2 separate regions of the Homo sapiens genome follow, and region 2 is linked to region 1. The links come from fine-mapping of genetic effects on plasma protein levels. A gene starts in region 1. The other region holds a variant in brackets. All regions are shown on one strand. Distances are from middle to middle. Region 1 holds the start of ENTPD2 (ectonucleoside triphosphate diphosphohydrolase 2). Region 2 overlaps NPDC1 (neural proliferation, differentiation and control 1).

Evidence for each region. PIP is the chance, under the fine-mapping model, that this variant and not a neighbour inherited with it causes the effect. Protein levels are from antibody-based Olink assays in UK Biobank. Linkage for the fine-mapping came from a reference panel and not from the study's own genotypes, which makes the PIPs less certain.
Region 2: its variant is fine-mapped to the plasma level of the ENTPD2 protein (UK Biobank, PIP above 0.99).

Annotation. Positions count from the first base shown.
Region 1 is chr9:137,051,301-137,061,859 of GRCh38, forward strand. It overlaps ENTPD2 (ectonucleoside triphosphate diphosphohydrolase 2), which reads right to left and starts at 2,761. Exons shown (of 9, transcript NM_203468.3): 1 at 2,581-2,761; 2 at 931-1,048; 3 at 210-360; 4 at 1-70. The coding sequence starts at 2,697. LOC105376327 (a long non-coding RNA gene) reads left to right here and starts at 1,045. Exons shown (of 2, transcript XR_930455.2): 1 at 1,045-1,575; 2 at 1,710-2,075. RefSeq lists silencers at 2,747-2,816, 2,917-2,996.
Region 2 is chr9:137,033,668-137,045,339 of GRCh38, forward strand. It overlaps NPDC1 (neural proliferation, differentiation and control 1), which reads right to left. Exons shown (of 9, transcript NM_015392.4): 2 at 9,260-9,406; 3 at 7,395-7,520; 4 at 7,147-7,317; 5 at 7,004-7,070; 6 at 6,847-6,931; 7 at 6,690-6,769; 8 at 6,304-6,400; 9 at 5,796-6,197. The coding sequence ends at 6,105. LINC02908 (long intergenic non-protein coding RNA 2908) reads left to right here. Exons shown (of 3, transcript NR_171031.1): 3 at 983-4,288. Among named protein-coding and RNA genes, the nearest start is that of NPDC1, 6.7 kb to the right of the region's middle. RefSeq lists enhancers at 971-1,170, 1,023-1,911, 1,912-2,798. The variant C/T (reference allele first, on the strand shown) is at 7,057.

The DNA.
Region 1 (10,559 bases):
AAAGGGGTACTGGGTCAGTGTGTGAGTCACTGCCATGAGCACACTGGTCGAGGCCTCTGGATTGGTCAGGCTGCAAAACACAGAGAACTCCAAGAGGCCTTCTCCCCAGGTGGCTGTGAGCCTGCTGTAGGGGTGCTCGGAGTCCGCCCTGCAAGGGGTCACAGCCAAAGGCCATCATGGGGACAGGGCCAGGGCACAGGCACACTCACTTGAGCAGGCGCATACCCGCTGTGGCTCCCAGGTAGAGGGGTGTGCCCGCGTGTCTCTCTTTGGGCACATCCTGAAGCGCCTGTTCGAGGCATCCAACAAGACTCTGGCTGGCCCCAGAAGGGTTGTCTGCATAGCTGGAGATGCCCCCACCTAGAGGGAGGCAGAGAGATGAGCCTATGCCTCACGGGCAGCCCCTAGGTGGGCCGTAGGCCAGGAGAGTGAGGGTGGGGGTGGGGGCCGTGGGCTCCCAGACCAGGTGGCACACCTTCCCTGCTTAAGCCCCCAGAAACGCCCAGGTTGGAGACAAAGGGGCCCAGGTGCCACCCGGAGACCAAGGCTGCTGCCTGCTGAGAGGGTGTGGGTGCAGGTGCTAGGACAAAGCCCTGGGCATGGTCAACCCAGGTTGGCCTCCTGAGGCCTGCCTGGGTGTGTCCGCCAGGCCCCCAGACCTCCTCCTGCTCCATCTGGGGCACAGAAGCCAATACTGGGCCCGGCGAGGCTCAAACCTCCCCACCTGCTGCCTAGGCTTCCTTTCTAGAATGCAAACGACTCCTGGCCCCACTCAGGCGCAGGGGCACCAGCCTCTCTCTTTCCAGGGCTTCTGCCTGGAGTGAGCCCCACCCAACACTAAGCAGAAGGACCTGCACTGGCTAAGGCTGGAGAGGGTCCCAGAGACCCTGCAGTGAGTGGGCGTCCTGGCTGGGCTGGGCTGGGCCTCACCTGGAACATCACAGGAGCTGTGCTGGCCCACAATGCCTGTGTCGTTCTCCTTGTCTGCCGGCCACTTGTAGATAAACATGGACGTGTGTGAAGAACCAGCGTCCAGGACGATGCCATACTGCGGGGGAGGGGGAGGGAGTCAGCCTGGGGTGTCCGGGGGCCCTGACACCCTGACACCAAACGTGAAGTTGGGTTCCTCCAGTTTGCCACCGCTCCCCCCCCCACCCAGTCATGTGCCAAGCCTCATGCTGAAGCTCAGAGGAGGCCAGGGCCTCCTCTGAGGCCGTGGTTGGAAGGAGAACAGGGAGGTGGTGGGGAGGTGACTCTTCCCTCCTGACTACCTGAAGCCAGCATGCCAGGGTCTGGGCAGCAGCCTTCCTGGCAAGGGCAGACTGAGGGACTGAGTCAGGGACAGAGGGACAGAGGGTCCCCAGGGACTTTTCCCTGGGGCACAAGTTTCCCAGGCTCAGGGAGAGGAAGCTCCTCTGCAAGAGGAGCTCCCTAGAGTCCCTCTTCCTTCCTCCCCTCTTCCTTCCTCCTCTGTCTCCTTCCAGCTCCTCTGACGGCAGCCCAACCTGAGGATGCAGGAGGCAGGGCCCCAGGTGAAGAAGGTCCACCGAGGCTGGCCGTGGGCCTCAGAGCCAGGTCAGCTCTAAAGACACTCTCCCTAGGCCTCCAAGCCAGGGCCAGAGAGAGAGGCTGGCCCTGCCTTGTTGGGGGTGCTGGGTGGGCCTTCCTGCAGACCTGAGTGGCACGAGCTTGTAAATGCCCTTTTCCAGCTCCTGCCCCAGCATCCTGGATCCACCTGGAAAGCTGGGGACCAGCCTCCCAGGCCCGGGCGCCAATTCCAGCCTCCGAGAGGGCCGCACCAGTCCATCCCGACCAAGGCTTCCCCAGAGCCCAGAGCATCAACAGGTCAGCGCGTGCACCGCCACATGGCCGTCCTGCAGGGCCGCAGAGCTCCCTGCTTCTGACTCCCCATCAGGCTGGGGGACTTGGCTCTCCACCCCACCCCCCTACAAGCCCAATAAAGGGTTAAAGGGGCCGACCAGGAGGTCCCTGGGCCTGCTGGAGTGGAGATCCAGGCTAGCCTGCTCCAACCTTTTGAGGACCGGCCAGGGCTGCTCCGGTCAAGCCCTCCTGTCTTTCTGGGCCACTCTCGTGTCCTGGCGGGGGCCCTGGGTCCTGGGGCTTGTGGATCCCCATCTGGGCTGAATACCCAGTCGATGTGGCTCTAACCGCACCCTCCGGGGCGGCGGCACAGGGCAGAAGTGGCCCGGAGTGCCCCTGGGGGCCCGCACAGGCCTGGGGGCGGGCGTCCGGCAGCACCCAGGGGGCATCGCTGGGCTATCCCGGGAGCGGGGACACAGCCCCTGGGCTGCGTTGACGGACTCGGCGGCGGGCGCGGAACTCCCGGGACTTGTTCCTTCAGCACCGCGTCGCCCTGGAAGCGCCACCGCCCCCCGCCCCCTCCGCGTACCCGGTCGGGGAGCGCAGAGCGCGGAACCCGGGACCCCACCCAGCCCGCCAGGAGCAGAGCACGGTGGGGGTCCCGGGCTGATCCTGCTCAGGTTCCCAGCCGCACCCCCTCCCCGGCTCCAAGCCCGGCCCGCTGCTCCCCAGACGTGCGCTGGGTGCCCGGGCGCGCACCTTGAGGGCGGGCGGCTCCCGGACGTCGCGGGTGGGGACGCACAGCAGTAGGAGGCCGGCGAGGCCCGCGGCGGCCAGCAGCAGCGGCGGCAGCAGTGACCGCACCTTCCCGGCCATGGGCGGGCGGGCGCGCGGGAGGACGATGCGTGGACCCGGAGAGTGCGGGGAGCCGGAGGCGGAGGCGGGCGGGGCCGCGGGACCGCGGGGTAGGGGCCCCGGGGCGGGACGAGGGGCGGGAGGCCGGGCGGGCCCGCCCATCACCGGCCACGCCCACGGGCGGACAGGTTTCGCCTCCGCTCCCAAGCTTCCGCCGTCCGGCCCGCGCAGGTGAGAGACGCGGGCGCGGCTGAGTCACCAGCACCGCCCCCCGGCTCCCGGGTCTGAGCCCGGGCGCCCCGCGGCTATGGCCCACCTTCCCCTTCCCGCCCACTCAGCAAGGGGATCCCCCGGCCGTGGAGGCAGGAGACCTGGCGTGGGGGTGGGCGGGCGAGGCTGGCTCGGAGGGTCCTGTGCTGGAGAGCCGCGCTTTTCCCGGGCCCGGGAAAGGAGGCCAGACTCGCTTGCAGGAATGAGGCACTGTCGGCTGCGGAGCCACGCGGGGCCCGGGCTGGGGACTCAGGAGGAAGCCGAGGGTCAGCACCTGTTTGTGGAGCAGGGCCCTGAGCGCCAACTCCCAGGGCTGGTGAGGACCAGGCTGGCCTGCGGGATGCCCTCCCGGCCAGCAAGGATCCGCCAGCCTGCGGCGCTGAGCCAGCGCAGGTCAGCTCCAGAGACACGCAGCTGACCCAGGCCAGAACTACCCTTGAGGCCCAGTCAGATCCACCTCACCTGGGCCCTGTACTGAGGTGAAGGTGAGGACGCAGGAACGGGGAAGGGGAGGGACGGCCCAGGTCACACCGAGCCGAGAAACAGGAGAAGCAGCACAGACCGGGCCAAAGGTCCATACCTCCCAGCCCAGGGCCTCAGCCGCGCCTGCTGCCCCCTCGGCCTGAGGGGAACAGAGGCTTGGGCTGCGGAGGCCAGAGGAGGCTTCCCCAGGACGGAAACAGGTGGGGCCTCTACGTGGCCTGAAAGGCAAGGAAGAGGGTCCCCAGGCCAAGCTTGGGGTGCGGGTCAGCAACAGGCTTCTGGGGACGGCTGGGGCAGGCGAAGCGCAGCTGGCCCCAGACGCAAGCCCTGCTCCTCCGTCCCACGACATGGCTGGCCTTTCGGCTCTGCAGCCTCACAGGCCCCGCATCCCAGCCCGGCCAGGGGCCACCCCCTTTGCGCCTGCTGCAAAGTGGGAATTCTTGTCCCAATAATTCCAGCCACACAGCGTCAGGGAGCCACGAGGCAAGGCCACCAGGGAGTGCAGGCTGCTGGGGCCCAAAGGGCAGCCCCATGGGGCAGGGTCCAGACCATGCCCGGCCTTCTGGAACGGGCAGTGACAATTGTGCTGGGATTGCTGCCTGGGCTGAGGGTCTGGCGCCACAGGCCCAGTAAAGGCATCTTTCTTCCAGCTCAGGACCCCAAAGGGAGGGGTGGGAACCCTGGGAAGCCTCTCTGCTGCCTCAGCCTCACAGCCCAGCCTGGCGGGGCTCCAGCAGGCAATCTCTGGGTGTTGCCGGTGCTAAGCTCCAGGCCCCAGGCCCCAGTTTCCCCCCACACACCCCAGGCCTTTCTTCCACCCCTGACCGCCCAGAGGAGGGAGAGGCACGCACAGTGCACATCATGCCTGAAAAGGAAGGAACAAAGGCCGCCCAGAGGCAGGGTGCTGCGACCCCCACTGGCCTGCGGTACCCCGCTTCCCTCCAGGCCCAGCGGGGCTTCCTGGTGTTCTGGACTCTTTTCATGGACAAAAAGCTCAAGCCAGGGAGTGGGAGGTCTGCCAGGCCTGAGAGGATGGGGAGGGAGAGGGGAGCTGGACTCTGCCCCGGGGAGACAGGCTCATGGCCGAGTGCCCAGCTTCGCCTGCGGAGGGAGAGGCAGGGAGCCCAGAGCGGCCAGGACAAAGGCTGAGGCTGAGCTCTCTTTGAGACGGAGTGAGGGCGGGGGAACGCCCCTTCCTGGCATGGACTCAGGGACCCTGGAAGGCAGACTTGGGAGAGCGTCAGAGGGAAGCTGGCAGGAGCTGAAGGGGTGGAGGGGCCTCTGGGTGGGGCAGCTCTCGGCTTCCAGGACCCTCTCGGGGATGGGGCCTCCAGATGTGCTGCACATGACCCCGGCTGAGCTGGGAACATGCGGATGCAGAGAGGTTAGGGGAGAACCCCTGGGGGAGGGAACTCGGAGCCTCCCGCCCACGCAGGGCTCAGACCTCCCAGGGAGGGGGGCTTTCCTGAGGCCTGCTGACATCTTGGCTGCCCTGCCTCAGTCTCCACATCAGAAGCTTGTGCTGTGTGGCTCACGTCTGTAATTCCAGCACTTTGGGAAGCTGAGGCAGGTGGATCACTTAAGGTCAGGAGTTCAAGACCAGCCTGGCCAACATGGTGAAACGCCGTCTCTAATAGAAATACAAAAATTAGCCGGTTGTGGGCCGGGCGCGGTGGCTCACTCCTGTAATCCCAGCACTTTGGAAGGCTGAGGCGGGCGGATCATCAGGTCAGGAGATCAAGACCATCCTGGCTAACGCAGTGAAATGCCATCTCTACTAAAAATACAAAAAATTAGCCGGGCGTGGTGGCGGGCACCTGTAGTCCCAGCTACTCGGGAAGCTGAAGCAGGAGAATGGTGTGAACCCGGGAGGCGGAGCTTGCAGTGAGCCAAGATCGCGCCACTGCACTCCAGCCTGGGTGACAGAGCGAGTCAAAAAAAAAAAAAAAATTAGTCGGCTGTAGTGGCAGACACCTGTAATTCCAGCTATTTGGGAGGCTGAGGCAAGAGAATCGCTTGAACCTGGGAGGCAGAGGTTGCAGTGAGCTGAGACTGCACCACTGCACTCCAGCCTGGACGACAGAGCGAGATTCCATCTCAAAAGAAAAAAAAAAAAGAAACTTGTGCTGTGGCCGAAACACCTTGATGGTTTAATTGTGAAAGGCCTTTCACTCACTGCTCCCTTTCTGCAGGTGCTCATTAAGTCATTCAACAAACGCTTGCTGAGTAGTACTCCTGGGTGCCCAAAGCACGCCAGGCTCCATGCATGCACAGGGAGCCCTGTGGGGAGGGCACCCACTGGCCTGGGGAGAGCAGACTTTGCAAAGGCCCACGGGAGGCGGGGAAGCCTGTGCTGTCCTGTTCGAGGTCGGAGACACAACAGAATGGGAGGTGCACATATGCACAGTTGGTAAGAGCAATGCCAGGGTGGCAGCAGGACCCCATTGGTGGTCTCTGATGTGCTGGACGTGCTGTTCTGGGACTTGCTTCTTTCACTCACGTTACGCGTTTGGGATTCACCCTGTTGACACTGAGAGGTGTGGCTTGTTTGTTCCTTGCTGTATTCCATCCTGTGAGTGAGAACATGCAGACGGCGTGTCGCTGCAGCTGGTGAACACACAGTGTCTGGCTTTAGGCTTTGCTGAGATTGCTGCTCTGCACATATACACTCTTTTTTTTAATTTTATTTTTTATCTGAGGTGGAGTCTGGCCCTATCGCTCAGGCTGGAGTGCAGTGGCGCGATCTCAGCTCACTGCAACCTCCACCTCCTGGGTTCAAGCGATTTCCCGCCTCAGCCTCCTGAGCAACTCGGATTACAGGCGCCTATAACCATTCCCCACTAATTTTGTATTTTTAGTAGAGACAGGGTTTCACCATATTGGCCAGGCTGGTCTCAAACTCCTGACCTCAGGCGACCCGCCTGCCTCGGCCTCCCACAGTGCTGGGATGACAGGTGTGAGCCACCGCGCCCGGCCTCTCCGTCTGCGTCGGCCTCCCACAGTGCTGGGGTGACAGGTGTGAGCCGCTGCGCCGGCCGCATGTGTGCTCTTGAGAGCACTTCTCTGGGGAGCATCCCGGATCTGAACTGCTGGTTGTCAGGCAAGTGTGTGTTCTGCTTCTCTAGCAAGTGCCAAATTCTTTTCTGAACGATGGCTCTAGCTGGCACTGTGAGCATTTTATTTCATTTTATCTTATTTTATTTATTTACTTTGAGACAGACTCTTCCTCTGTTGCCCAGGCTGGAGTGCAGTGATGTGATCTCGGCTCACTGCAATCTCCGCCTCCTGGTTCAAGCAATTCTTCTGACTCAGCCTCCCAAATAGCTGGGACTACAGCCGTGTGCCACCAGGCTAATTTTTTTGCATTCTAATAGAGACGGGGTCTCACTGTGTTGCTCCCAGGCTGGTCTCAAACTCCTGAGCATCCGCCCATCTCGGCCTCCCAAAGTGCTAGGATTACAGGCATGAGCCACCGTGCCCAGCCTAATTTTTGTATGTTTAGTAGAGACGGGGTTTTGCCATGTTGGCCAGGCTGATCTCGAACTCCTGACCTCAAGTGATCCACCTGCCTTGGCCTCTCAAAGTGCTGAGATTATAGGCGTGAGCCACCAAACCCAGCCCCCCATCTCCTTTTATTGGAGACCGGGGCCTCACTATGTTGCCCAGGCTGGTAAATTCCTGGCCTCAAGCAGTCCTCCTGAGTAGCTGGGGACTAGAGGTGTGTGCCACACCCTGCCTGGCTTTGGCCTTCTTTGATTTTGAAACCGGCTCAATTGTCCCGTGGAACTGATGTTTATGGTTTCTTTGAATAAACACAGAAATTGATCCTCCTAGTCTTAAAATTTGAGAAAGTGACATTTGTCCTATTTGAGTTCCTTTCTCAGAAAACCAACCATGAGGCCCCCAGATAGAATGAAAGAGCTAAAACTCACCAGATCACGGTATCTTGACAATGAGACACCAGACCCCCCAGCTGTCAAGATTGCCTGGCCAACCACCAGCTTCCTGTTGACCAACTCCTCTTCTTCAGCTGCCCCTAATTCCTGTTTTCTCACACCTAGTTACGTGGCTTCCCTGCTCTATAAACCCCTAATTTCAGTGGGTCAGGGAGACGGATTTGAGACTGAGCACCCATCTCCTTGGCTGCGGCCGGCTTAAAGCCTTCCCCCTGGCGGTGCTCCTGGTCTCCGTGATTGGCTTTCTGTGCAGCGAACAGCAGGACCTGGACTGAACCCCTGGTGTTTTGGTAACAGTCTCTCCCCTCCCCTGCCACCTGCTGCCTCTTCCCTGTAAGTAGGTAACAGGCCTTTGGTTTGTTTGTTTTAGCAACAGGGTCTTGCTCTATTGCCCAGGCTGGACTGCAGTGGTGCAATCATAGCTCATTGTGGCCTCAAACTCTTGGCCTCGAATGGTCCTCCTGCCTCAGCCTCTGCAGTAGCTGGGACCACAGGTCCACACCATGGCTGGCTTCCCTTTGCCTTTTTTTTTTTTTTGAGACAAGGTGTTGCTGTGTCACTCAGGCTAGAGTACGGTGGCTCAATCTCAGCTCACTGCAACCTCTACCTCCCGTGCTCAAGGGATTCTTGTGCATCAGCCTCGTGAGTAGCTGGGACTACAGGCATGTGCCACCACACCCAGCTCATTTTTGTATTTTTAGTGGAGACGGGGTTTCCCCATGTTGGCCAGGCTGGTCTTAAACTCCTGGCCTCGGGTGATCCACCTTCCTCGGCCTCCCAGAGTGCTGGGATTACAGGTGTGAGCCACCGTGGCTGGCCTCCTCTATGGTTTTGATATCATGATGGTCTGACCTGTAATCCCAGTACTTTGGGAGACCGGCCTAGGCAACATTGTGAGACCTCGTCTCTACCAAAAACAAACAAACAAAAAAATTGCTTTAATTTTTTTTAAATTAGCGTAATATTTGGATTATCTGTTCCTGCAATTTATGGTAGAACTTGCCTGAAAAGGCCGGGTGCGGTGGCTCACGCCTGTAATCCCAGCACTTTGGGAGGCCGAGGCGGGCGGATCACGAGGTCAGGAGATTGAGACCATCCTGGCTAACACGGTGAAACCCCGTCTCTAGTAAAAATACAAAAAATTAGCCGGGCGTGGTGGTGGGCGCCTGTAGTCCCAGCTACTTGGGAGGCTGAGGCAGGAGAATGGCGTGAACCCAGGAGGAGGAGCTTGCAGTGAGCCGAGATCGAGCCAGTGCACTCCAGCCTGGGCGAAAGAGCGAGACTCTGTCTCAAAAAAAAAAAAAAAAAAACTTGCCTGAAAAAAAAAACACCTAGGCCCAATTTTTCTGTGGGAAGTTTTTTGTTTGTTTTGTCTTTAAGAGATGGGTTAGAGACCAGACTTACTATGTTGCCCAAGCTAGACTCAACCTCCTGAGCTTCAAAAATCCTCCCACCTCAGCCTCTGGAATAGCTGGGACTACAGGCATATGCCACTGTGCTGGCTTCTACAGTACTGTTTCCATTTCTTTGATAGTTACAGGGCCAGACCCCTATTAACTATTCTTCCTGAGCCAATTTTGTATTTTTTTCTTTTCTTTCTTTCTTTTTTGTTTTTTGAGATTTGTTATTATTATTTTTAGAGACAGGGACTCACTCTGTTGCCCAGGCTGGAGTGCCGTGGTGCAATCACAGGTCACGGCAACCTCCGTCTCCTGAGCTCACGTGATCCTCCCACTTCAGCCTCCCGAGTAGGTGGGACCACAGGGGCACATCACCACACACAGACAATTTTTTTATTTTTTGTAGAGGTGGAGGGTCTCCCTGTGTTGCCCAGGCTGGTTCCAAACTCCTGGGCTCGGGCAGTCCTCCCGCGTCAGCTTCCCAAAGTGCTGGGATTACAGGCGTAAGCCTGCCCATGTGGCTGATTTTGTATTTTTCTAGGAAGTTACCCACTCCAGCTGAATTGGCATAATCTCATTTAAAATATCCTCTTAGAATCAGCTTAACTTCTGCAGCATGTGTGACTATTTTGCTCTTTTTTATTCCTAATATCATTTATTTGTGCCTTATCTCTTTTTTCTTGATTAATTTAGCCAGAAATTTTGTGTACTTTTTCTCAACCAAGTTTCTGTCATGTTTGTTTCCTATTTTACTATTCTTTTCATGAAAGAGGAAAAGCTATTTATACCTTTATTGGTGTGTGTGTGTGTGTGTCTGTTTGAGACAAGGTCTCACGCTACCACCCAGGCGGGAGTGCAGTGATGTAATCTTGGCCCACAGCAGCCTCGACCTCCCAGGCTCAAGCAATCCTCCCACCTCCACCTCCTGAGTAGCTGGGACTACAGGCACGCGCCACCACACCGGCTAATTTTTAAATTTGACACATAAGTTGTTTAGACGTGTCTGCTTTAATATCCAAAAGTCTGGGCCGGGCGTGGTGGCTCACGCCTGTAATCCCAGCACTTTGGGAGGCTGAGACAGGCACATCATGAGGTCAGGAGATCGAGACCATCCTGGCTAACACGGTGAAACCCCGTCTCTACTAAAAATACAAAAAATTAGCCGGGTGTGGTGGCGGGCGCCTGTAGTCCCAGCTACTCAGGAGGCTGAGGCAGGAGAATGGCGTGAACCCAGGAGGTGGAGCTTGCAGTGAGCCAAGATCGCGCCACTGCACTGCAGCCTGGGCGACAGAGCGAGACTCCATCTCAAAAAAAAAAAAAAATTCCAAAAGTCTGGGCTTTCTCGAATTCTCTCTTTTCTTTCTTTTATTTATTTTGAGACAGGGTCTTGCTCTGTCACTCAGGCTGGAGTGCAGTGGCACAATCATAGCTCATGGTAACCTCAAACTCCTGGGCTCAAGTGATCCTCCCACCTCAGCAGCCCCAGTAACTGGGAACACAGGCATGAGCCACCACATCTGGCTAATTTTTGTATTTTTGGTAGAGTCAGGGTTTTGCCGTATTGCCCAGGCTGACCTCAAACTCCTGGGCTGAAGCAACCCTCCCGCCTCTGCCTCACAAAAGGCTGGGATTACTGGTGTGAGCCACTGCACCCGACCGATACATGTTTATTTTATTAATATTATTTTTTTGAGACGGAGTCTCATTCTGTAGCCCAGGCTGGAGTGCAGTGGTGCCATCTCAGCTCACTGCAATCTCTGCCTCCTGGGTTCAA
Region 2 (11,672 bases), 17 kb before region 1:
CCAGGCTGGAGTGCAGTGGCGCAGTCACGGTTTGCTGCAGCCTCAACCTCCTGGGCTCAAGCAATGCTCCCACCTCAGCCTCCCAAGGAGCTGGGTCTATGGGTGTGCACTACCATGCCTGGTTAATTTTTTAAAATTTTTTGTAGAGGCAGAGTCTTGTTATGTTGTCCAGGCTAGTTTCAAACTCCTGGCTCAAGCAGTCCTCCCACCTCGGCCTCCCAAAATGCTGGGATGCTGGGAATGAGGACGCGTCTGTCCTGTCAGGTCTTTTGGGGGCTCAGATCGTGTGTCCTGGGAGGAATGGCAACCATGAACTGTTGTCCAGACCTTTGCCCCAGCACCCTCAGAGGGGGCCTGCCTCCCACCACCCCTGTCCCTGTCCTGTTCTACTTTTGGGCCCCAGGGGCTGCTGGCCTCTCCCCGGCCCCACAGTGAGGACAAGGCTGCCTTGGGAGGGGAACCAGGCAGCTGGAGACTGAAGTGGGAGGATCCCACTGTGGGGACAGAGGCAAGACTGGGACAGGGTGGTAGTCAGAGGCCCCCACCCCTGTGGCGCAGTGTAGCCTCTGAGCTGAGCTTTGCTGCGGAACTTGTGCAACGGCTGGAGGGAGGGGGGCTGGAGGGAGGGGGACTTGGAGGGAGGGGGCTTGGGAGGGGGGCTGGAGAGAGGGGGGTTTGGAGGGAGGGGGCTGGAGGGAGGGGAGCTTGGAGGGGAGCTTGGAGGGAGGGGGGTTTGGAGGGAGGGGTGCCTGTGGGCGCCACGGGAAACTGTCAGTGCCTGAGCTGCTTGGCTTAGGGGCTGGCACCAGAGTGGGCAGCTGCCTCCAGCCCCGCCTTTCCAGCCTCCCATGTTTTCGGTGATGACCACAGTGGCACCTGGGCCTTTAATCCCACCCCAGCGTTCCTCCTCTGGCAGGGGGCCCCCGGGGAGCCACACCTTGGCTTCAGCCTCACACCACCCCATCTCTTCTCCTTGAAACAGACACCCGGCGGCAGTTCCTGCAGGAAGGAGGCTGTCCTGCCACGCCTGCGGGTGACCCGGCCTCTGGTGCCAGAGCCTGCCATCCTTCCTGTTTGTGCTGCCAGGCTGGCAGGGTCCCTTGCCACCGACCTCAGCCGCAGCCACAGCCTGCTCCCTCCCTGGGTGGATTTGAAGGAGCCTCCCCCACCCTCCGCCCCTAGCTTGCTCCTTGAGGACCCTGGGCAGGGTGGCTGCCATGGGGCCCAATCGTGCGTGGGAACCTGCGAGCTGGCAAACGGGGCTCGGGGGTTTTGCCCAGAAATGGGTCAGAACGAAAGCCTCTCAGAGGAAAGAAAAGGGCATGAGTCAAAGAGAAAGTCGGGGGGCAGGGGCTCCCCCTCATCTCACCCCACCCAGGCCTCCTGACTCCCTGGGTTTGTGCGGACCCAGGCAGGCAGCCAACCCCAGCTCCGTGGTGTGTGAGCATCGTGATGATCAGGACACAAGCTCTTCCCCGCTGAGCCTTCACTGTGGGCCAGCTTCCCGGTGGATGCCCACTGAAGAGGCCTCAACCCAGTGGGCCCCACTCCAGACCAAGAGCAGACCATTGGCCAGCTGCCCCCTGCAGACAGCGGCACCCGGGGCAGCAGCAAGGTGAGGGGCACCCAGCCCCAGCCCCAGGGGCGTCTCAGGGAGCGGGCTGAGCCTGGCTGTCTTCCTGAGCCCCACCTGCTTCATGGGTTGGCTTGAGCAAGGCAGTCCAGATGCGTGTCTCGAGCGCTCCCTGGCGGCATGCTGCAAAGCTACATGGCTCCGGCAACAAGGAAGACTGCCCTTATTCTCAGTAACAGGTGGAGCTGGGGGCTGGAGAGCCCCTCGGACCTCGCCTTGGGAAAGCTGGGTGGGTGCACGGAGCCTGGCAGGTGGCCAAGGGGACCCCCAAGTGGAGGGATTGGTCGAGGGGCAGCACAGGGTGGTGCAGTGGGTGAGCTCAGCCCCTCCCCTCCAACTCTCATCCCATTGAGCCCCAAGGCGTGGGGGGATCACGTCTGTCCTTGTTCTCCTCCAGGTGGAGCTGCTGGGTGGGGCTCTGGTCCTCCAGGGACCCACTCTGCACCCCAAGTTTTGCCGGGACCCGCTCCTCTGTGTTGTGTGGCTGTAGGGGAGGGCTGCAGCCAGGGACTCTGAACCCGGGGCCGGCCCACCCAGCCACCCAGGGTGGGGAACAAGATCGCCTCCCAGGGCCAGAAGCTGGGGATGTCCTTGCTTCCTAGGATGTTGGCTAGGGGATCACACGCCCCACATTCTGGGTCAAGCATGGTCCTGCCCCAGCATCTTGCTGGGTTGGGGGCATCTCTGCACAGATGAGTGCCACCCCAGCGTCTCCGCCAGGGTCTGGGCATGTCACTCTTGGGCATCTGTGCTCAGGAGGTCACCAGGTGTGGGCAGGGCACCAAGCAGGGAGGTAGCCGAGGCTGGAAGATGCACATCAGTGCCCCGCTGGGCTTCCTCAAGTGGGAACTGGTGGAGGGGGCGCTAGGCTGCCGGGCCAGGGTCAGCAGGCTCAGGCCGGCTCAGGGCTCAGAGTTGAGCCAGAAACCAAGGTGAAATCTGCCTCTTACTGCCGCCAGGGCCCTTGGGACAGGGACAGGAACAGCAGAAGGTAAAGTGGAAAGGAATTGAGTAATGGGCCCCCAGGCAAGGCTGAGCCAGGCCCCAAGCCCAGGATTGGGGTCTCCAGAGTCCCTGGGGGCCCCAGGGCAGCTCACCCACAGCCTGGGGCCTATGGGAGCAAGGGGGCTCCTGATGGGTGGGGGCAGGAGCTTGGACAAAGTTGAAGGCCTTCTGTCTGAATTGGCCAGGGGCCAATGAAAGCCAAAAAGCTGGTGTGGTGGCTTATGCCTGTAATCCCACTTTGGGAGGCCAAGGCGGGTGGATCACCTGAGGTCAGGAGTTCGAGACCAGCCTGGTCAACATGGTGAAACCCCATCTCCACTAAAAATAGCTGGGCGTGGTGGCAGGCACCTGTATGTAATCCCAAATACTCGGGAGGCTGAGGCAGGAGAATCACTTGAACCTGGGAGATGGAGGTTGCAGAGAGCCAAGATCATATCACTGCACTCCAGCCTGGCTGACAGAGTGAGAATCTGTCTCAAAAAAAAAAAAAACAATTCCAAAAAGGCGAGTGGGGAGCAGGGTGCTAGGCTGCATGGGGGCCTATGCCCCCACCGGAGGACCTAGCCCCCTGCCAACCCTTCCCCAGCTCAGGCCCACCAGCTCCCTTCTCACACAGCTGCTCTGGGAGGGAGTCCTTCCTTGCCAATACCTAAGAGAATGGGCAGCAGGGACCCTGAGGACAGGTTGGGGACACCCAGAACAAGAAGAAGATGGGACACACTAGGAGGCTCTTGGGCCCCTGCGTCAGGCCAGCAGGATAGGTGTGTATTGTGACCTGAGGGACTGAACGTGGAGCTCCAGGGGAACCTCCCAGCCAGTGACACGCTGGCCTTGGGCCAGACGCTGCCCTGCGCCCTTGAGTGACGCTCGGGCCTCCCTGCACCCACCCGCTTTCCCTGTGGCTAATGGCTTAGAGTGAAGGATGGTGGGCGTGGGCGTGCCACGTGGGCTCAGCGTCCACCCTGCCCCATGCACGCAGGCACCCATCACACCAGGGCCCACACACAGGCTCCCATCACACCCTGCCCCATCACAGCAGTGCCCAGAGGGACATGGGGCTCCCAGCTGAGGGCCAGCCCAAGGTCACAGGTGAGGAGTGAGAGGTGAGAGGCAAGGGGGCTTCCTGGTCTGGGTGGGCTGTGGCCCCCAAAACATGTTGCTTAGGTCAAGCCAGTCTCCCCCAGCAGGGGTGAACAATTTTCCCCCAGCCTGCCTGGCCCACCCTTTCTCCAGGGACGGTGCCCAGTGGGCCTTATCTTCCCCATGCCAGGTGTGATGGTTAATACTGTCAATTTAATTGGATTGAAGGATACAAAGTATTGATGCTGGGTGTGTCTGAGAGGGTGTTGCCAAAAGAGATTAACACTAGAGTCAGTGGGCTGCGGAAGGCAGACCCACCCTTCATCTGGTGGGCACCATCTAATCAGCTGCCAGCGAATGTCAACCAGAAAAACGTGAAAAGGAGACGACAGGCCTCGCCTCCCAGCCTACATCTTTCTCCTGTGCTGGACGCTTCCTGCCCTCGAACATCGGACTCCAAGTTCAGCTTTGAGACTCGGGCTGGCTCTCCATGCTCCTCAGCTTGCAGACGGCCTATTGTGGGACCTTGTGATCGTGTGAGTTAATACTTAATAAACTCCCCTTCATATATATATGTATTTCTTTTTTTTTTTTTAACACAGTCTTGCTGTCTCTAGGCTGGAGTGCGGTGGTGCAATCTTGGCTCACTGCAACCTCCGCCTCCTGGGTTCAAGCGATTCTCCTGCCTCAGCCTCCAGATAGCTGGGACTACAGGCACACGCTGCCATGCTTGGCTAATTTCTTGTATTTTAGTAGAGACGGGGGTTTTACTGTGTTGCCCAGGCTGGTCTCGAACTCCTGAGCTCGGGCAATCCGCCCGCCTCAGCTTCCCAAAGTGCTGGGATTACAGGCATGAGCCACTGCACCTGGCCCCCCTCTCTCTCTCTCTCTATATATATATATCTCCTATTAGTTCTGTTTCTCTAAGAGAACCTGACTGGCCGTGTGTGGTGACTCACGCCTGTAATCCCAGCACTTTGGGAGACCGAGGTGGGCAGATCATCTGAGGTCGGGAATTCCAGACCAGCCTGGCCAACATGGAGAAACCTCGTCTCTACTAAAAATACAAAATTAGTCAGGTGTGGTGGCGCACACCTGCAATCCCAGCTACTCGGGAGGCTGAGGCAGGAGAATCGCTTGAACCTGAGAGGCGGAGGTTGCAGTGAGCCGAGATCACGCCATTGCACTCCAACCTGGGCAACAAGAGTGAAACTACGTCTCAAAAATAAATAAATAAATAAATAAATAAATAAATAAATAAATAAAAAGAGATCCCTGATTAATAACACGAACACGCCAGGGCTGTCTAGGTGCCTGGACCTCCAGACTCCTAACAACCACTGAGGGGCTTCTGAACCCAGTCCTCCTACGTCCCCAGCATCAGTGGGACAGAGAGTTTCAGCCCCCGCACGCTGACCTGGTACTGGCCTGATCTGGGCACTTTTGACCACATGATTCCCCTTCCTCCCTCGGGGCCTTCTTGCTCCAAATTTAGGAGTGGCCAAGTCCCAGCTCCAGGCGTCCAGGCCCCTCCCATCACACCCCTCACCTGGCCCCCTGGGTCCACCTGGCTCTGCATAGCTGGTATCACACAGGTACCTCTGCCTGCCATCCCTCCTCCGTGTGCTGCAGGGCCTGGCGGCCGTGGTCCCCATGAGAAACCCAGACTCAATGTCTGCATTGTTTTCCTTCTGCCTGGAGGTGGTGGGCACCCACATCCAGGTGCGTGTGGACTATCACCTGCTCCAGCCCTCTTTATCACACAGGATGGGGTCTTCCGGGCCGCAGAGCCAACCCTGGGCTGGCCCAGCCCTACACTACACCCTTCCCCTCTCCCACCTGCGTAGAAGGGTCTGCAGGGGTGAGGCCTGGCTGAGGAGGGTGGGGATGATCCCGTGGCCTCTCCTCCAGCTCCACGGGATGGGAAGGTCCTCCTAATGAGCGAACAGAAAGGCCTCCTCCCTCTGGGGGTGCAAGAGCAGACCCCAGGCCCCCCACTCAGGGGTCCGTCTACCAGGGCCCCAAATGGGAGATGAGGCGGTGGAAGATTAACCCAAGCTGGCAACACAGGCAGAAGCCGCAGGTCTGAAATGGACTTTAATTGGCTTTTGTCTCTAGAATTACCCACCCGTTCCTGCGCTCTACGGTTCTCCATGCCCCCTCCAGTTTGGGGGTCTAAACCGAACAGGAGAGGTGCAGGGGACCAGGAGGTGTCCTGGCACAAAGGTTCGGGGGTCTCCCTGGCAAGGGGTCCCAGGGCCTGGAGCCCGAGGCCCAGCCAAAAGCACACAGCATCAAAACATGTTTTTAGTGGGAAGCTCCAGGCCCTGCCCCTCCCCGGGGGCCTCGAGGTCGGGGAGCAGGTGGGCGTCTGTCTGCCTCCAGGTCATGGCAGTGCAGGCGGTGAGCTGGGGGCCGGCAGGGGCGCGGACAGTGCGGCGTGGTCGAACAGAGGGTTGCGCACCTCCATTTCCCCGGTCTGCGAATGTGGGTGTCAGGCTGGGCAGTGGGTGGGCTGGGGGGATACTTGCTGGGAGGGAACCCCAGGAGATGGTTCGCCCCTCCCTGCACCCTGAGGCACTCACCGGGGCCAGGCCCGGGCACTCGTACACCGTGAAGTCTCCGTCCTCATTCTCCTCATCCGAGGAGGCCGTGTCCAGCTCCTTGGGTGGCTCTTTATGCCTGGGTGGGGGGGGATCGCTGGGTCCTCCCCATGCCCTCGAGGTGCCAGTGGCCCAGTCTGGAAGTGGGCACTCAGCCCACCTCAGCCCTGGGGTGGCAGGGGAGCACAGCCCAGGGTGAAGTTGGCCAGGGGAGGTGAGGGTGCAGGGCGGCGGGGGAGGTGAAGGTTAGCGTGCAGGTGAGGGTGGCAGGGCCTGGGGTAAAGTTGGCCAGGGGAGGTGGAAATGGAGGTGGAGGTGGGGATGGGGGGTGGGTGGGTGGGGGTGGCAGTGCCGGGGCGGCCACTCACCGCTCCAGGCACAGCATCTGTTGCCGTTGGTGCTGGTAGTGGTACATCTCCGCGCTCTGTGCCAGCCGCTGGTCCCCAGGCTGTGGGAAGGAGGAGGCGAGGGTCAGTTGGCGGCCAGAGTTGGGCGGGAGCCTCAGGGCTGAAGGGGGCCACACACCGAGATCCGGGGAGCTGCAGGTGAGCCAGGGGCCTTCGCAGTGGCGTAGTCGGCCTTCTGAGTCAGGCGGATCTCACGCTGCAGCCTGTGGGGAGTGGGGCCTGAGACCTCTGAGCGTGTGGCACCCTCCCTGCCCTGCCCGCGGCCACTGGCTCACCTGCACCAGCAGAGGGAGGCTACGGAGAGGGCGGCTGCACCGGCCACACAGAA[C/T]GCCAGGATCAGCACTGCAGGAGGGGGCGTGTGAGGGCGGCCTTCTGCAGGGCGCCCTGCTGCCCCTGCCCACCCCCGACCAAGACCTACCAAGGGCGAGGCCGTCGCCTTGCCCTCCCCGGGGCTCCAGGGGCGACATGTGCACCGGGTCGGATGACACAGGGGAGCCCAGGGAGGTGTGGGGCGTGGGCGTGGGGGTTCCTGGAGTGGAGGGGAGGCCCAGCTCCAGCCCCTGCCCCCGTGCCGAGAAGCCCAGGGTGGCTGCGAGAGAGGACAGGTTAGAATGAGAGCACTGGGCTAGGGACAGGGCCGTGGGGCAGGGGAAGCGGGGGTCTCACCAGGCTCCGGGAGCCGCTGTCGGTCCTTGGGTAGGGGCGGAGTTGAGTGTCCAGACTCCTTCCGGGCAAGCTCCTGGGCCAGGAAGTCAATCTCATCTTCCAGTCTGGGCTGGGGCCGGCCCCCGCCTGGGGAGGGTGAGGGGCCATCAGGTGGAGGGGTCCGTCCAGGAGGTAGCCCCAGGCCCGGCCTCCCCGCTTCTGGCAGGTTCCTCCCAGGAGCCTGAGGACTGGGTACACGCCTGGAGGCCCTCTCCCTCCCAGATTGCCATGGTGACAGCGCGGGCGCTTCCTGTGAGGGGCAGTGCTTCCCGGAAAGTGGAGGCAGGGCAAGGGAGGAGGCGCTAGGGAAACGTCCAAAGACCGGGCACGGGGAGGAAGGAGTGGGGTCTCTCGCCCCAACCCATGTCCATAAAGGGCTGGCCAGCACAGCCCCTTCTGCTTCCCCACCTCCAAGCACCTTCTCGGGTAGAGGGGCAGGGACTCCCCAAGGAGTGGGGGGAAGCCGAAGGAAGCCAAGCACCCGGGACCCCTCCCCAGGTCATTGGGAGAACGGGGGCAGCTGTCAGGGGTGGGGCTGGTGGCAGGGCTCCACCGGTACCCACTGTGGGCTGCACAGTCTGGGTGGACGCTCCCAGGTTGGCAGGAGGTGCATCCACACAGACCCTTACAGCCACTTCTCGGTGCTCCTCTCAACACCTCCTCCAGGAAGCCGCTGCTGCTCCCACCCCCAGCACCTCTGAGCAAAGCCCTCACCACACCTGAAGTCACTCAGTGACTGGCCATCCCGACAGATGCGGCTCAGGCTGGCGAGCGGGGCATCCCCAGCACCCAGCCAGTGCTGGCACCCTTCAACATTTGCCAACAGGCGGACAGGACAGTGAGTGGTGGAAAAGAGCAAGCTGCCTGGGGACGGGGAAGTGGGGGCCTGGAGGGCTTCTGGGCAGACCCTGCAGAGCCCAGGCCCGGGGAGAATGGGCCCTTCCTCTCCCGTGGCCATCCCAGCATTTCACATCGTGCAGCCCTTCTCCTGGGAGGGCCTGACTGCCCCAGGCCTGGGCCCACCTCCATTTGGAAAGGATGGGAGGCTTCGTGGAGAGTGAATGAGGATCTCCCAGGCCTTGGACCCAACACCCCACAAGGTCCAGGGGCCCCAAGACCACCTGGCACAGGCCTGGGCATTGAGGCTGCAGGCTGCTGCTTTTTTTTTTTTGAGGCGGAGTCTCGCTCTGCCGCCCAGGCTGGAGTGCAGTGGCGCGATCTCGGCTCACTGCAAGCTCTGCCTCCCGGGTTCACGCCATTCTCCTGCCTTAGCTTCCCGAGTAGCTGGGACTACAGGCGCCCGCCGCCACGCCCGGCTAATTTTGTTTTTGTATTTTTAGTACAGATGGGGTTTCACCGTGTTAGCCAGGATGGTCTCGATCTCCTGACCTTATGATGTGCCCGCCTCGGCCTCCCAAAGTGCTGGGATTACAGGCGTGAGCCACTGCTCCCGGCCTTCTTTTTTTTTTTTTTTTTTTTTGAGACAGAGTCTCGCACTGTCGCCCAGGCTGGAGTGCAGTGGTGAATCGGCTCACTGCAAGCTCCGCCTCCCGGGTTAAAGCAATTCTCCTGCCTCAGCCTCCTGAGTAGCTGGGACTACAGGTGTGTGCCACCACACCCGGCTACTTTGTATTTTTAGTAGAGACGGGGTTTCACCATGTTGGCCAGGCTGGTCTTGAACTCCTGACCTCATGAGATCCAACAGCCTGGGCCTCCCACAGTGCTGGGATTACAGGCATGAGCCACCGCGCCCAGCCGGCCGCTTCTTACAGGGAGAGGTTCATGCAGGGACATCCCCCCATCGACTTCCCCCTTTGCTCTCGTACCTGGAGGCCGGCGCATCCTGGGCACACAGAGCCCTTGCTGGTCCTCCTGGAAGGGCTGAAGGCAGGGCCCACAGGCATGTGCACCAGGAGGACACCTTGCCCGCCTCTTCAGGGCACAGTCCAGGCTCCCGGGACAGGCGGCTACATCTGGGAAGGAAGCAGAAGGCAGGGCCGGCTCACGGCCCCGCAGGGCTCGGCCCCTGCACACGGCAGCGCTGCCCCAGCCACCCGCCCCCGTCACCCCCCGAGCTGGCCGGGCCTGGTTCTGGCCATTGTTCTGGACATGCCCTTCCTCCCTGACGCCAGGGCTCAGAACCCGGAAGCGAACAGTCCTAGGACTTATCAGAACTACCCTGCCCCACCCCTCCCCAGGGTCCACTTCCAGGCCTGATAGAGCCCTCAGCTCAGAAGCTGAGTCTCGCCGTCCAGGCAGTGCTGAGTTCTCCTGGGCAGGGCCGTGCAGCCCCACAAGCCCAGCCTCCGGCCTCAACATGCCCCACAGCAAGCCAGGAACCCCGTCCAGATTGGGAGTCCCAGAGGGAAGGGCCCAGGTCTGTCTCTGGGGAGCAGCAAACGATGCCGCCAGCGACCTCTCCTTCCCGTGCGGCTCTCCCCAGAACCCGGCACTGACAAGTGTGCAGCCTGGAAGGGATGCTGCTCCTCCAGCCTCTGGCTTGTCCCCCAGGCACCGAGGACACCTAAGATGGAGTCTGCTGACCTCACTGGCCTCAGACACAGAACCCAGGCAGGTCACTCCCAAAGCCACCACACCAGGGGCTGCAGTCAGGGGCCAGGTGGCACCCGAGGGCCTCAGGAGGCCGAGGTTGGCAGTGCTGGGGATGGCAGGCCAGGCCCTAGTTCCCTAGTTCCTAACCACACTTTCATCTCGCTGATGAGGGGCCCAGGCCACGGTGCCAGCTGACACATGTGGCTAATCAGTCTTATCCTGGTGCTGGAGAACGGGGCGAGGGGGCAATGGCCCTCTGCCTCAGTTTCCCCTCTGGGATATAGCTGAGTTGCCTCAAAGCTAAGGAATGTCCCCAGTCACAGCAAGCCAGTGGAGCCAGGGGAACCCCAGCAGGGCCATCAACCCTGCCTGGGGAGTCTGCGGTGGCACCTCTGGCTAACCAGGACTCTTCCTCTCTGCCCAGCCCCACACTGCACACTGCAGGCAGGGCCACGGGGGCCACACGGGGCATCATCCTTCTCCAGACCTTGGTTGGCTGGTTTGGTTTCCTTGGTAACCTGACACTCAGGGCCCTCAGGCTGTCCGCCTTCCTTCAAGGCAGTTCCAGCAGCCGCAGTGGCAGGTGGGCACAGGAGCCAACGCCAGGCACCGCACACCCTCCACAACCTGGGGCAGCAGCCTCCAGTATCAGTGGGCCGGGACTTGGGCACGTTAAACATTAAACCTGTGCCAGCAGGTCCACCTGGGCCCACCCGCCAACTTGGCACCTGGGGAGTGAGGCAGTCCCCGCTCCTGTGCTGATACCCCACCGTCCACCACGCCAAAGGCAGGGGCCTGAGGTACAAAGCTGGCTCTAGGGTCTGGGTTCCAGGCCCCTCCTAGCCCTTTTCCCCAGCCCAGGAGCCTCCATCCCCCACTTCCTCCTCCTGAAAAGAGGTCGCAGGAACAAGAGCAGCTGGACGGTGGCTGGCACACCCCCCTCCACCCGCCAACGTCTGGGCTGCCTGAGGGCCCTCCCTTCCAAGCACTGGGCACTGGGAATGGGAGGAGTTGCCTAGGGAGGGCCCTGCCAGGTCTCCCGGTGAGGCAGACACGAAGCTGCAGAGGCCGGTGAACTGAGGACTGGCACCTGCCACCCACCCGGGCTCAGCACAGCAGCTGCAGCCCCGTTTCCTGAATAGGTGGCCTCCGCCTTTCCTGGCTGAGCACACTCTGATTCTCGGAAGCCTCTCCTGTTCATGCCCACCTCCCATCCAGGGGCACTGAGCCCAGGAGGAAGCCGGCCTCACTCTGGCCCCTTGAGGCCACACACACAGAACCAGGCTGCCCAGGACAGCGCCTCAGCTGTGCCACAATCCACTTAACTTCTCCATGCCTCGGATTCCTTGCCTGTAAAACGGGCTCACAGCACCTCTTCTGCAGGGCTGCCAGGAGTACTGTACGAATGCAGTCGCAAAGTCTCCCAGTTCAGTCCCCCCAGAAAAACGTCAGCTTTGCATCCTGGGTTCCTGCAGGGAGCTCTGCTCTCTGGACCCTCAGGACCCATCTGTGCAGGTGAGAGGGTGTCCCAGGACCCTGGGCTTATCACCCTCCTCCGGAGTCCACCTGCAGCCCTCAGTCCCAAAGACAGAATGCCAGTGCCCTCGAGGGCAGGGGATGCAGGCGGAGGCTCTGAGGCTGCAACAGTCTCCCTCCTATTGAAGCTAGAACAGCACCCCGAGCCTG